4 linked regions of the Homo sapiens genome follow. The protein of the gene in region 1 purifies or fractionates together with the protein of each later gene. This does not show direct contact. Each region holds a gene or a part of one and is shown in the gene's direction. Other genes may lie near its edges.

What was found.
Region 2: the proteins of ZNF691 (region 1) and NARF purify together in Homo sapiens (affinity purification with mass spectrometry; one large-scale study listed by BioGRID and IntAct). This does not show direct contact.
Region 3: the proteins of ZNF691 (region 1) and FPGT purify together in Homo sapiens (affinity purification with mass spectrometry; one large-scale study listed by BioGRID and IntAct). This does not show direct contact.
Region 4: the proteins of ZNF691 (region 1) and ZMYM1 purify together in Homo sapiens (affinity purification with mass spectrometry; one large-scale study listed by BioGRID and IntAct). This does not show direct contact.

What each region holds. Positions count from the first base shown.
Region 1 is NC_000001.11:42,845,136-42,849,428, forward strand, and holds the start of ZNF691 (zinc finger protein 691), read left to right. Parts: upstream 1-1,477; 5' UTR 1,478-1,522; exon of another isoform or gene 1,523-4,155; 5' UTR 4,156-4,206; coding exon of another isoform or gene 4,207-4,278; exon of another isoform or gene 4,279-4,293. UniProt on the Homo sapiens protein: May be involved in transcriptional regulation.
Region 2 is NC_000017.11:82,486,182-82,489,749, forward strand, and holds part of NARF (nuclear prelamin A recognition factor), read left to right. Parts: intron 1-1,734; coding exon 1,735-1,976; 3' UTR 1,977-3,568.
Region 3 is NC_000001.11:74,201,217-74,204,784, forward strand, and holds part of FPGT (fucose-1-phosphate guanylyltransferase), read left to right. Parts: intron 1-101; coding exon 102-194; intron 195-3,174; coding exon 3,175-3,568. Other genes in the region: FPGT-TNNI3K fusion protein, read left to right, coding at 102-194. UniProt on the Homo sapiens protein: Catalyzes the formation of GDP-L-fucose from GTP and L-fucose-1-phosphate. Functions as a salvage pathway to reutilize L-fucose arising from the turnover of glycoproteins and glycolipids.
Region 4 is NC_000001.11:35,082,322-35,085,889, forward strand, and holds part of ZMYM1 (zinc finger MYM-type protein 1), read left to right. Parts: intron 1-3,568.

The sequences.
Region 1 (4,293 bases):
TTATTTTATCAATTTATAAACAAATAGTGTTCATAAGGCACACATATTTCACTCAACCATATTCAGTTCCAAACATGCATTCCTGAATATCCCAATCTTAAAACTAACTCACATTGTCAGCTTGTGGAGGCAGAATACATGCATACATATACACATACATACATGAATATACATATAATATACACACACATATGCATACATACACATATACACATGTATACATGTATGTGTATATACATATCTGTACTACATAGGTGTATATATATGTATATGTATTTAGCATGTATGCACGTGTATATGTATACACATATATACATATGTATGTATAATACATATTCACACATGTATGCATGTATATACACATGTATACATTAGTATATGTATATACACATGTATGTGTATTATACATGTATATATGTACATACATATCAGTCTACTGATTTGAATATTAATGTCATCAAGAAATAACCTCAATATATGTATGTATTATAACCTTACAACTATATAAAACATACATACATATATATGTATATATGTATACACATACACATGCATGAGAATATATGTATGTATATATAATATCCTCACAGTAATTCTGCCAGGGATTTTATGGGGGAGGGAGTTGGTACTCCAAATGGCTAGGTGGTAGAGCCAGAGTTTTATACTTGGTTTATCTAGCTCTGAAGGCAATGCTCCTTGTTCTTTGCACTGAAACATTGTGCAGATACGAGAAGCCTGTAGTTTACGTATTTCATTAGCCTTTTATTATTTTAAAAAATAAAACCTGAAAAAAAAGACCTAGTCCTGGATACTTTGGTGATCTTGTTGTGTCTGGATTGACGAACACGTGTCAGGCTTAATTAGGGATGCACGCGGAACCCGGGAAAATCCCTGCTCAGGGGGGCTGGAAGACCTGGAGGTTGATCCTTGAACAGGGTACTTTTAGCTTCTCCGATAAGGAGATTGGGTTATTTTATCTTTAAACTCCCTTCCAGCTCTACCCTCCTTTGATTTTAAGTTATAAACCTTGAGTGAGGTGCCAGACTCTAGGCTTCGTTGGACGTCTACAGGACGGTCAAGGATTACCAACTCAAAGTAAAGAAGGAAATTTGAGTACTTGCCCCCTTGGAGGTTGTGTAGGTTGGCTATACAGATTCTACAACTTCCCAGACGAGTGGCCCTGAGACTTGGGGCTGAACGCGCGAGCACGGAAAGAAATCCCACCGTAGGACGGAACCCAGTCTCTTCAGCTCCATCCTAAACTTCGCAAGTTTTCTCTGAGTCTACGCGCTTCCTTAGGACTACAACTCCCAGCATGCCACGCCAGCGGTCAAAGCTTATTGGTGGTCCTGCCAGGTCGCTTGCGTTGTGGCAGTCATGGTAGCCAATGGAAATAAAGAATTATCCCAAGAAACCAATCCTGGAGTAGTAGGGCGGATCCTTCCTGGGTTCCGGCTCCGGCTCCAGCTCCTTCCCTCGCCTACAGAGGCGGCGCTGTCCCTGATCGAGCGGCGGGAGCGAGGTGGGTCCGGGTTGGGCCCGAGGTCGCGGGGGGAGGCGGACACGACTTCGCGGGAAACTCTGTACACGGCCACTTCCCTCTCACCGAGGATCTGGATGCTGCTGCTTTGCTCCCTGGACCGAGTGGGAAGCCAAGGGGCCTTGTGGTCCCTCCGCCGCGACCCTCGCCCTGGCCCCCGGCCCACGCAGCCAGGTGGCTGTCCCCAACCCATTCCCCGGCCCTTCTGTTGGGTTTGAGTATACAGCCTTCCTGCCGCTGACCATACGTTTAGGATCAGCCCCTCCTCCTCTCCCACCTCTCTGGCCCCAAGCCCGCCGGCAATCTCTGAAACCAGCTCTTGTACCCTTGGACCTCCGCCATTGGCTTCTCCCCGCCCCGCAACACACAACTCAGCTCTTGGGCCCTGGCCTGTGACACTTCTGGCAGCCTTTGCTTCCTCTTCCCTGACCGTCTCCTGCGACCCTCTGACTTCCTTGGTCCTCCTGTATCTCTGACCCGTTATCTAGCTTCCCTGTACAATTACCCTGTTAGCACCTTGCTCTTGGTCTTTCATAGCTCCTCTCTCCTCTTCCTCCCTGCAGCCCTTGACTTGGCCCCAAAGACCTGTAACTTCGGACCTCCATACCGCACTATGGCTTGGCCCCTTGCCTTTAACCTAGGCGCTTCACCTTCATCATCTGTGATCACTAGCCCCATCTTCTTGGCTCTTAACTTCTTAGACCTGGCCCCTCCTCCACTTCTCAGCCCCTTCCACCGTTGCTTCTCTCTGTGCAGCTGAGCCACCAGGAAGACAAAGCCCAATAGACCCCTTTTCCCCCCAGATCTCTGCAGTGTGATATGAAAGTGCCTCTGTACTTCAGCTGCACTGTCTTCTCAGTAGGTAGTTGCCTCTTTATCTCTGCAAGTCCCAGTCTTACCCATCCTGCAAACCTTAGGTCAAATACCTACTCCTCCTTGAAACTTCTCAGCCCTGATTTCATCAGGGAGATACATCTGTATCATGTGAACTTCAGTGGTACTGTTTTTATTTCCTTCCTTCCCGTCTTCTCTCCTTTTTTCCTTCAGTAATAGTATAATGGTTAAAAGCACTGACTTTGAAGTGATGGGCATAGGCCCCAGTTCTGCCACTTACTTGCTGTGTGCCCTTGGGCAAGATACTTAATTTCTCTGAGCCTCAGCTTTCTCATCTCTAAAATAAGGATGATGTGAAGTGAAATTAGATGATTCATATATGGTCCTTAGTCCACAGCTTAGCACTTGATTCGAGCTTTAAAAAAATGTTAATAATGTGCCAGGTGCTGTGTTAGACACTGAGGAGTGGGTACAAAGGTGACTAAGGCACAGTTCCTGCCCCTGTCCCCTGAACTTAACCTTCTGCATTGTATGACAATTTCTGGAGTTCACGGTCTGTTTCAGTACACTGTATCACAAACTGAGTGGTAATCATAATCCTAAATCCTTTTGCTCTTACATTGACCTAGCATCCAGCCCCGGGTAGAGCTGGAACTTGGTAAATTATAGGTTCTCAGAATAGCAGTTTCGGAAGTGAGTGGAGGCTGAATAGCTCATTGCGTAGAGATACTGTAGCTGTAGGTCAGATGGGAGCAGGGCAGGGGGTGGGGGATGGGATGGTGGCGTGAATTAAGATCACATCCTGTCACTTATACATTCAAAAGACATTTGAGCACCCAGCTTTATGCTGCAGAAGGAGATTACTAATATGACCCAGTCCCTTTCCTCAAGTTGCTTATAAACTACTAATAGAAACAGACATGTTCTACTAGTAGTTGCAAACCACTATAAGCCAAGCACAAGATTCTGTGACTGCATAAAGGAGAAAGTAGGCAGGAATCAGGAGATTGCTGAGGAAAAGTGGGTGAGACAGTTCATGGTTACTTGTGTCCCATGAAGACAGAGCTGGTGTTTTATTCAACTCATTCAACAAATACTTATGAAGGATCTACTGTATATGGCTGCCACTACTCTAGGAGTTTTGGTTACATTGGTAAATTAAAAAAAAAACAAAAAAACAACAAAGACACCAGCTCTCATGGAACTTATGTTTTAGGGAAGCAGACAATAAATAATAGACATAAAGAGAATGTCAGAAGGTAAGATGTGCTATGGGGCAGGAGGACTGGGAGTGTGGGAGTGATTTTAATTTTTTAAAGGATGGTCAGGAAACAGTGTCTAAGTATCAAGGAATAGTTTCTCATGTTTACTTGCATTTTTGGAAGTAAAGCAAACCAATTATTTTTCATATTCTTATCTAAATTCTTCAAGGAACACTAACAGGGATTGGCAAACCACAGCTCACCTCCTGTTGCTTTAAATAAAGTTTTATTAGAGCACAGCCACACATTCCTTTATGTCTTGTCTATGGCTGCTTTCATGATTCATGATACAGTGGCAGAATTGAATAGTTACAGCAGATATCCCATGGCCATAAATATTTACTAAATATTATCTGGCCCTTTACAGAAAAAGCTTGTCAACCTCTGGTTCTTAAAGAGTTGAGGTTCTGTCTGTATTTCACATTTTAGAAGGTTATATACAGTTTTATGCTATTTTTAAGTTAAAAGTTTTTTCTTAATGAGATCATTTAAAAGATCTTTTTCTTGTATTCTTCACAGGGCCTGGACGTAGTGTCTTCAACAGTTGTAACAGCAGCTGCCATTTGCTGAATGACAGCATGTGTCACACACTCTGCTGAGTATTACAGGCATTTTTTTCTAATACAAAGTCTTGTAGTGTGGGTAGGTATCACAATT
Region 2 (3,568 bases), on another chromosome or scaffold:
GGGAGTGAGAGGATGAGAGGAGGCCAGGACACGGTGGGGGTCTCCGGGAAGGACTTGCTGAGGGTGTGTCAGGGAAGAAGGGGACCCTCTGCCCCTGACCCATGGTGGTCCATCTGCGCCCCTGGTGGGGAACTGAGGACCTTTGTGCCATTGTGAGTCGGGGGGGGCACCACGAGGGACTCGAGTGGAAATGCCGGGTGCAGGTCAGTTGGAGGAGCGGCTCCACTGATGTTAGACAAGTGGGACAAGGTGTGAAGCCACAGGATGGGAGGGGCCCTTGGGCAGGGCACAGACAAGGGTGTGTCCTTCAACACAAAGGATCTCGTAGAGGAGGGGAGGCCTCAGCCAGCACTGACAAGAGGAGGGTGAGGGCAGAGAGGGGAGCCTGTGGCCTTGGAGGCCTCACTGAGCATTCCAGGGGCACGGAAGGGTCAGTCCCACAGCTGGGCTGAGGAGCAGCCGGGAGGTGGGCCGTGAAGCAGGGCCTCTGGGAGGGCCTCTGTGTGCAAGCGGGTGGAGCTGGGGCCTGAGGAAGGAGAAGGTGCAAGCCCAGCCCCCTGGGAAAGTGGAGGTTGGAGACCAGCTGGGGTGCCACCCTGGAACCCATGGGGAGTGAGGTTTAACCAGGGAAATTTGCTCCAGATTGTTTTAAATGAACTCTTACACTACTAAGAGTGACATCATCTAACACGTTGGAGAGTAAGTAGCATTAATAGATAGGAGACACATTTTTACTCAGGCCAGTGTTGGGTGTGTGGGCTCATGGCTGGGCTCACAGCTTAGCTGCCTCTGGTGCAGCCTCCAGGCAGGGCCCAGCACACTAACACGTGTGGTGCAGGCAGGAGTGGTTTAACTGCTTGTTCACAATTCCTGTGCTATCCTGGTTTTGCCAAATTCCAAGAGAAGTTGGAAATCGGGATTTGCATATGAAGCCACCCAGTTCTAAAAGGTTGGCAACTTAGGTTTTAGGTAAAACCATTTTATGGGTGATGTAAATGGGTAAGAATGAGAGGCACACGGGTCCAGGCACGGTGGCTCACGCCTGTAATCCCAGCACTTTGGGAGGCCGAGGTGGTCGGATTACCTGAGGTCAGGAGTTTGAGACCAGCCTGGCCAACATGGTAAAACCCTGTCTCTACTAAAAATACAAAAATTAGCCGGGCGTGGTGGCACACACCTGTAACCCCAGGTACTTGGGAGACTGAGGTGGGAGAATCGCTTGAGCCCAGGAGATGGAGGTTGCAGTGAGCCGAGATTAGGCCACTGCACTCCAGCCTGACCAATGGAGAGAGACTCTGTCTCGAAAAAAAAAAAAAAGAAGAATGAGAGGCACACGGGGCTGTGAGTCTGGGATCAGTGTCCCTGACAGCCTTGAGGAAGACCCTGGCCTGTTCAGCCAGCCCTAGCCTTAGGCCACACAACATTCCACGTCCCCTTTATTCCTCTCCTGCTTCCAACTCTTCCCTGTGAGGCAAAACTTCCTTAAGACTATCCCGGCTGGGTGCGGTGGCTCACGCCAGTGGTCCCAGCTCGAAGTAGGATTGCCGCTTGAAGCCAGGAGTTCAAGACCAGCCTGAGCAACATAGCAACACCCGCCCCTCCCGCCCAATCTCTACAAAAAATTTAAAAATCAGCCGGGCAAGGTGGTGTGTGTCTGTAGTTCTAGCTGCTCAGGAAGCTAAGGCAGAAAGATCGCCTGAGCCCAGGATAAACTTACCTGTGTTTATCTTTCAGGATGCTTAAATGGCAGAGGCCAAGCCCAGACTCCAGACGGACATGCGGATAAGGCCCTGCTGCGGCAGATGGAAGGCATTTACGCTGACATCCCTGTGCGGCGTCCGGAGTCCAGTGCACACGTGCAGGAGCTGTACCAGGAGTGGCTGGAGGGGATCAACTCCCCCAAGGCCCGAGAGGTGCTGCATACCACGTACCAGAGCCAGGAGCGTGGCACACACAGCCTGGACATCAAGTGGTGAAGTCAGGCCAGGGCCTTCCAGCTGCTCTTGGGGCCAGAGCCAAGAGCCTCTCAGTAGAGGGAGGGGCTGCCCTGAGTGGAGTATTAAAGACACTTAAGAAAACCGCTCAATGGATTACTTTGGTTTCTCCGAGTTCCCTGCTACCCCGTTTATTGGAGGCCCCTCAGGCAGTTTCATGTGGTGCTATCTTCATAATAGGTGTGGGATTGGAACTTTTTTTTTCTTTTTTTTTTTTTGAGACGGAGTCTCACTCTGTCACCCAGGCTGGAGTGCAATGGCGCAATCTCAGCTCACTGCAACCTCTGCCTCCCGGGTTCAAGCGATTCTCTTGCCCCAGCCTCCCGAGTAGCTGGGACTAACGCGCACACCACCATGCCCAGCTAATTTTTGTATTTTTAGTAGAGATGGGGTTTCACTATGTTGGCCAGGCTGGTATTGAATTCCTGACCTCCTGATCCACCCGCCTTGGCCTCCCAAAGTGCCAGGACTGCAGGCATGAGCCACCGTGCCTGGCAGATTGGAACGTTTTAACATGAGAGGAGCACTTCCCCAATTTATCCCTTCATCCTAAGATTGTGAAAAAGTCCCAAAGAGTGGGAATGGAGACAGACTACTGTATTTTAGGTTTAAAAAGAAAAATCCAGAAAGTGTCCTGTGAAGAGCTAGGACCCCCAGAGGTTCTAATGCACATGACTTGAAGGTGATTTGATGTGGGAGTGAGGGCAGAGGGTGGGGTGGCTGTGCCTGTGGACTCCTGTGGCCCTGGGGTTGTTAGGGCAGGCAGTCCACAGTCCCAGATCCCTGCCCATTTTGGCTCTTTCTTTTACCCACTCATATTTTCCTTGAAAATGTTTTTGCCAGAACATTAATAACTGTCAGCCTTTTAGAATCAGGAGACTTACGTACAAATCTGGATTTTCAGCTTTTCTTAGAAAAACTGTAGTTTCTGACAACAGTAGGCCCCATTCCTCACAGCCAGTCACCACCCTCCTCCCATTCCTCACAGCCAGTCACCACCCTCCTGGACCATACTCGGCCCTGGGCCATTCCTCACAGCCAGTCACCACCCTCCTCCCATTCCTCACAGCCAGTCACCACCCTCCTGGACCACACTCGGCCCTGGGCCATTCCTCACAGCCAGTCACCACCCTCCTGGACCATACTCAGGGCCCTGGAGGCCTGGCAACCCAGGCCCCAACTCAAACTTGTACATTCAGTCTTTCAGTCGGACTCGCACTGGGGCAAGGGTGACAGACACGAGAATGGAAAATTGAGAAGGCTGCCCGCACCAGCTGGGTGGGTGCAGGGGGCCCCAGCTCATCATCAGCACTGTCGTGGGGTGGGAGTCGGGGGTAAAGGTTCCGTCTGACCCTGAGGGGTTGAGGATATTCAGGTGGTCCAGCCTCCCGCAGAAGACTTCCCTGTCACCCTTGGCAGACAGGTTTCTTCTCACACGGCCCTGGCCCATCCACTCGCCATGAAGCCCTCTGTGCTCAGGGTGATGGAGCCCCCTCCATTCTGGCACTGCACTGTGGGCATGAGCTTGCCTTAAAAAGAAAGGAGAGGCCAGGCACGGTGGCTCGTGCCCTATA
Region 3 (3,568 bases), about 31 Mb from region 1:
GGCAAATCCTTAAGGTTATATAACACCTAAATTTACTGTCATGACAAAGTTTTAGTAGGTTTCTATTAAATAAATTGTGCTTTTTTAACTTTGTTTTTAAGGAAATGGAGGATCAACACTTTGTGCCCTTCAATGTTTGGAAAAGCTATATGGAGATAAATGGAATTCTTTTACCATCTTATTAATTCACTCTGGTAATGTTATACTTTACTAATTTACATTTTCTTTTTAGTCTTCCACCTTTAATACTTTAGAGACTTTTTTCTTTCTTGCAAACACTTTCCTTCTTTTTTAAAAGAATCTTTGAAGTTATTCTGCTTTGAAAACAAATATTTTATGATTTTCATGACTTTTTTTAGGTTGTAAGTAGTATAGTGATTTTCACAAATTTTACTCGTAAAATTGTAGATCACGTATATCGTCAGTCTTTTATGAATATTGTTTTGTTTTGGGTATGTATATAGAAAATTATTTTCCTAAGACAACTCATTCAAATATGAATAGTTCTCGGGAATACTTTAATGGGGATTTTTCTTTTAATTTTAATTTGTATTTTAAGTTCCAGGGTCCATGTGCAGGTTTGTTACATAGGTAAACGTGTGCCATGGTTGGTTGCTGCACCTGTCAACCCATCACCTAGGTATTAAGCCAGCATGCATTAGCTATTTTTCCTAACACTCTTTCTCCCTTAATGGGGATTCTTGCTTTGAGGGAAGGGTGGTTTAACACTGTCATTACTAGACTTTTGCCAGTACTTTTTATCTTGCATTTTTGTGTGATTATTGATAGCCAGAGGCCACAATGCTTAAAAATAAAAGGAAAATGTGACAAGATACAGAGTGGACAAGTAAATATATAAAAGAGAAATCACACACACAAAATAAGACATTTTAAAACAGAAAAGTAGGAAGGACATGGTCTCAGAATGAAGAATAGCTTTTTAAATTGAATACATTTAGTTGTGTGAAAATTTTGGTTACATGAAAACCTTTGTTGTTTTTCTATGTATGTTAAGGGGCTAATGAAAACTGTCATGAACTGACACCAGTCCAGGGACAGGTATTTTAGAATTATTCATCTACATGGCTTCCAAGGCACTTTTTCATTCTTATGATTTACATACAAAACAATGATTCTTTGTAAAGATGATGTCAAAGTAAAGCATCCAAGTTCTGGTTTGAAGCCTAAAAATGTGTAAAACAATCTAATTTACAATTTTATTTAAGAAAATAATTATTATCAGTTTAGTAAAAATTAAATTAGATACCAGGAAATGCATAGTTAGATAATTTTTTTATTTTTATTTTTTGGAAATAGATAATTCTTAGTGCTAAACTTGACTATTGGCTGCTCTTTGAAAAAAGAAAAAAACAGAAACTTATTAGCTCTCTTTTGTTGAACAATGTACTGTGTGCTGCCAAGTGCTTTACAGGTATTATTGATCTTCAGTAATAAATTAACCTTAGCTTACTATAACATTTTTACTTTATAAACTTCTTAATTTTTTTGACTCTCTTGTAATAACATTCAGCTTAAAACACAAACACTGTACAGCTGTACAAAAATATTTTCTTTATATTGTTAGGGTTTATTTTGTTGTTTTTATTTTTACTTTTTAAATATTTTGGTTAGAAATGAAGACACAAACATATTAGCTTAGGCCTACACTGGGTCAGGATCATCAGTATCACTACCTCTATAGTCCTACTAAAGTTCAGGAGCTGTCATCTCCTATGATAACAATGCTGCCTTCTGAAAGACCTCCTGAAGGACCTGCCTGAGGCCATTTTATGCTTAACTTTTTTTTGTATGTATCATATGAATTTATTCTAAAATAACAATGAAAAGTATAGTATAGTAAATACATAAACCAGTAAAATAGTCATTTATTACCAATTATTATATACTATATACATAATTGTATGTTCTGTAGTTTAGTAAACTGGCAGCACAGCAGGTTTGTTTATACCAGCATCACCACTTGAGTGGTGCATCGTGCTAGGACTTTACAATGGCTCCAACATCACTAGGTGATAGGAATTTTTCAGTTCCATTATGATCTTATGGGACAACCTATGTATATGCTGTCCATAATTGAGCGAAATGTTGTAAAGAAGCAAGTATTTTAGCATTAGTATATTAGTTTTCTATAACTTTTATTTTCTGTGAAGTAGATTTTTTTTTTTTTTTGAGATGGAGTCTGGCTCTGTCGCCCAGGCTGGAGTGCAGTGGCACGATCTCCGCTCACTGCTGCAAGCTTCGCCTCCCGGGTTCACGCCATTTTCCTGCCTCAGCCTCCAGAGTAGCTGGGACCACAGGCGCCCGCCACCACGCCCAGCTAATTTTTTGTATTTTTAGTAGAGATGGGGTTTCACCGTGTTAGCCAGGATGGTCTGGATCTCCTGACCTCGTGATCTGCCTGCCTCGGCCTCCCAAAGTGTTGGTATTACAGGCTTGAGCCACCGCGCCTGGCCTTCTGTGAAGTAGATTCTTAATTAGAAGTCTAAACATGGTTGAAATTTGTTGTTTAAAATGTAGATACAGGCTGGGTGTGGTGGCTCACGCCTGTAATCCCAGCACTTTGGGAGGCCGAGTTGGGTGAATCACCTGAGGTCAGGAGTTTGAGACCAGCCTGGCCAACATGGTGAAACTTCGTCTCTACTAAAAATACAAAAATTAGCCAGGCGTGGTGGCAGGTGCCTGTAATCCCAGCTACTCGGGAGGCTGAGGCAGGAGAATCGCTTGAACCTGGGACACGGAGGTTGTGGTGAGCCAAGATCGCACGTCACTGCACTCCAGCCTGGGTGACAGTAAGACTTCATCTCAAAAAAAAAAAAACAAATGTAGATGCAACATCATGTTTTGGGCCGTGGTCCTTCTTATTTGTTATACATGTAATTCAAAACATTTCACAGATTCTACAGTATATTTAAATTTTTTCCTGACCTACAGTTTTTAAAATTGTCTTATATCAAATGGCAACAAGAAAATTTCTCTTCGAATTTTTAATTTGGATTTCATTATTCTTTCCTGATTTGCAGTAACAAGTGGCATATATTAAATATCGTTAAATATATTTTGATTTGTAACTTATGGGTTATAAAACCCTGGGGTTTTGAAAATTTTATAAATAATACTGCATTTTTAAATGGTTATTTCGTTTTAATTTTATAGGTGGCTACAGTCAACGACTTCCAAATGCAAGTGCTCTGGGAAAAATTTTCACTGCTTTACCTCTTGGTAACCCCATTTATCAGATGCTAGAATTAAAACTAGCCATGTACATTGATTTCCCCTTAAATATGAATCCTGGAATTCTGGTTACCTGTGCAGATGATATTGAACTTTATAGTATTGGAGAATTTGAGTTTATTAGGTTTGACAAACCTGGCTTTACTGCTTTAGCTCATCCTTCTAGTTTGACGATAGGTACCACACATGGAGTATTTGTCTTAGATCCTTTTGATGATTTAAAACATAGAGACCTTGAATACAGGTCTTGCCATCGTTTCCTTCATAAGCCCAGCATAGAAAAGATGTATCAGTTTAATGCTGTGTGTAGACCTGG
Region 4 (3,568 bases), 7.8 Mb from region 1:
TCTTCCTTTCCAACTTTTTTTTTTTTTTAAATGGAGTCATGCGCTGTCACCCAGGCTGGAGTGCAGTGGCATGATCTGGGCTCACTGCAACCTCCACCTCCTGGGTTCATGCAGTTCTCCTGCCTCAGCTTCCCGAGTAGCTGGGATTACAGGCGTGCACCACCATACCCAGCTAATTTTTGTATTTTTGGTAGAGATGGGGTTTCACCATGTTGGCCAGGCTGGTCACGAACTCCTGACCTCAAGTGATCCGCCTGCCTCAGCCTCCTAAAGTGTTGGGATTACAGGCGTGAGCCACCACGCCTGGCCTGCTTTCCAACTTTTATGCTAAATTCCCATCTACTATTTTACTTTAGCTTAAAGAATTTCCTTTAGTGGCCGGGCGTGGTGGCTCACCCCTGTAATCCCAGCACTTTGGAAGGCTGAGGCGGGTGGATCACCTGGGGTCAGGAGTTCCAGACCAGCCTGGCCAACATGGTGAAACCCCGTCTCTACTAATAATACAAAAAATTAGCCAGGAGTGGTAGTGCATGCCTGTAATCCTAGCTACTCAGGAGGCTGAGGCAGGAGAATCACTTGAACCCGGGAGGTGGAGGTTGCAGTGACCTGAGATTGTGCCATTGCACTCCAGCCTGGGCAGCAAGAGTAAAACTCTGTCTCCAAAAATAAAAAAAGAATTTCCTGTAGCATTTCTACAGTGTTTTCATTTGTCTGAAAATGTCTTTATTTTGCTCTTAATCTTGAAGGATATTTTTACTGAATATAGAATTTTAAGTAGATTTTTCCCCAGCACTTTAAAGATATTACATTGGCTTCTGGGGTTTTATTGTTTCTTTTCTTTTTTTTTTTTAAGACAGGGTCTCACTGTCCCCCAGACTGGTGTGCAGTGGCTTGATCACAGCTCACTGTAGCCTCACCCTCCCGGCTTAAGCAGTCTTACCACCTCGGCCTCCCGAGTAGCTGGGACTCCAGATGCATACCATCATACCCAGCTAATCTTTTAATTGTTTTTAGAGATGGGGGTCTCACTATGCTGCCAGGGGGTGGCCTCGAACTCCTGGGCTAAGCAGTCCTCTGTCCTCTACCTCCCGACATGTTCAAATTGCAAGTGTGAATCACCACACCCAACCTTAGTGCTTTTAAGATTTTCTTTTTGGTTTTCACCAGTGTAACTATGACATGCCTACTCGCGTTTTTCTTTATATCTTATTTGTGATTCACAGAGCTTGAATTCATGTGGTTTGATGTTTTTCTTCAGTTTTAGGAAATTGTCCTAAAAAATTGTAGGTATTTTTTGTTTTTGTTTTTTTTCGAGACAGTGTCTCAGTCTGTCACCTAGGTTGGTGTGCAGTGGTGCGATCATAGCTCACTGTAACCTGGAACTCTTTCCTGGGCTCAGGTGATCCTCCAGCCTCAGCCTCCCACATAGCCTGTACTACAGGCATCCACCACCATGCCCAGCTAATTTTTCTAATTTCTTTGTAGAGATGAGGGTCTCACTATGTCACCCAGGCTGGTCTCGAACTCCTGGGCTCAAACTCCTGCCTTGGCTTCCCAGAGTTCTGGGATTATAGGCGTGAGCCACCTTGCCTGGTATTTTCTTTCAAATACTGCTTCTTTTGCATTGTCTATTTTCTCTTATCCTAGAACTGAATAAGAGATCCCACGTGGCACATTATTCTAGATTCTTATTCTAGAACTGAATAGGAATCCCACATGGCACATTATTTCAATTTTCCATCCTTTTATCTCTGTGCATCAGTGTACCTTCTAGCTTGTCTTCTTCACTAATTTGATATTCATCGATTGAATTCTTAACTTCCTCACTGTGTTTTCCAATTCTAGATTTTCCATTTAACTTTTTTTTTTTTTTTTGATGGATGCCAGGTCACTACAGAACTTCTCCATCTTTCCTCTGTTTTCTCAAACATAACCAAGTCCTTGCCTGACAAGAACAATATCTGAGTCACCTGTGGGTTTGTTTCTATTGCCATTTTTTTCCAGTCAGTTTTGGGATTTTAAAAATTCCTCTTAGTCCATAAATTATTACTGGATTCTGGAAATTTTGGATGAACATTATTAGCATCCGGATGTACTTCCTTCAAAGCAGACTAAGGTTGCCATTAGGCACGTGGATAGTAGTAGCAGATGACATTGATCCTGTTGAGGGTTGATTATAGGTCTTGTTAAGACTGGTCTATTTCAGTTTGTCCTTTCTTCTTGGAAGTGGTCTCTTTTCCTCCTGGGGCATAGCCATTACTCCTAGGGCAAGGCCCTCCTTGAGTCTCAACCCGAAATCCAGGTCTTTACCAAAACCCCTCTATCTTGCTGGTCTTAAATTTCAACTCTCAACTCAGCATAGCTGCTATAATCTTATTAGCTCTTTGACGTTTAACTGCTGTGTTCTGTTAAGTTTTTGAAGTCTCACTCTGTAAATGTGCAGTTTAGGAGTCCGCCAATGACTTGGAGGAGGGGAGATTTCTATGCATATTATTTTTCTGTAGTTCCCTCCTCTCCCAGATTGTGCCTCTTGAGTTCCAGCTACTTTAGAATCCAGTACTTCTAACTGTCTCCTGCTGTTTTCTGCTTGGGTTTCCACTATTTTGTCATGGAAAGTCCCCTTACCAGTAAAGTCTGTTAAATTTTGTAATTAATTCCAGTGAAAGGATTTAGTATGCTAAAGGCTACTCTGTTATGCCTGGATTTATCCGTTTTTTGTTTTGTTTTGGTTTGGTTTTTTTTTGGAGACAGAGTCTCGCTCTGTCGCCCAGGCTGGAGTGCAGTGGCACTGTCTCAGCTCACTGCAAGCTCCGCCTCCTGGGTTCACGCCCTTCTCCTGCCTCAGCCTCCGAAGTAGCTGGGACTACAGGTGCCCACTACCACGCCTGGCTAATTTTTTGTATTTTTAGTAGAGACAGGGTTTCACCGTGTTAGCCAGGATGATCTCGATCTCCTGACCTTGTGATCCACCCGCCTCGGCCTCCTAAAGTGCTGGGATTACAGGCGTGAGCCACCGCGCCCGGCCCCCATATTATTTTTACTTCATGCTAGTCTGTTAAAATCTGGAGCTCAGTTGGTTTCCAAACTGCATAGGATCTGATTAGGCAGAAATGACTTTGGCAGGAAGGAAAGCAGTATGAGGACAAGTAAAGTGAGGAGGTTAAGGTGCAGCTGATTCTTTGCCTTGACATCTGTCTCCCTTTCCCTCTGGCCCAAAGAGGAGGATAGTGTTTTCTCCTGTGGTTGTTGTAGATCTCCCTTTGGCTGCAGCTGTCCTTTCCTGACCCTGAAACCACCTCCATGACTACATTCCAGCTTCAGGGACAATAGCCTCCTTCCTTGAACAGTCATTCCTAGAGCTCTCTTGGGCCTGCCCTTTCTTGCCTTTGGTGTGGCACATGCCAGCCACCTAGCTCTAATAGGGAATTATTGTTGTTAAATCAGTATTCTGTACCCCTCATTCCCAGCCTAGTTTTGAAATGTACTTGTGGTTGGAGTGCTAGGTTCACACTGGCCCCTAGCATTTGTGGGGTCCTTGCTAAGAGTATGAATGGAAGCCCACATACTC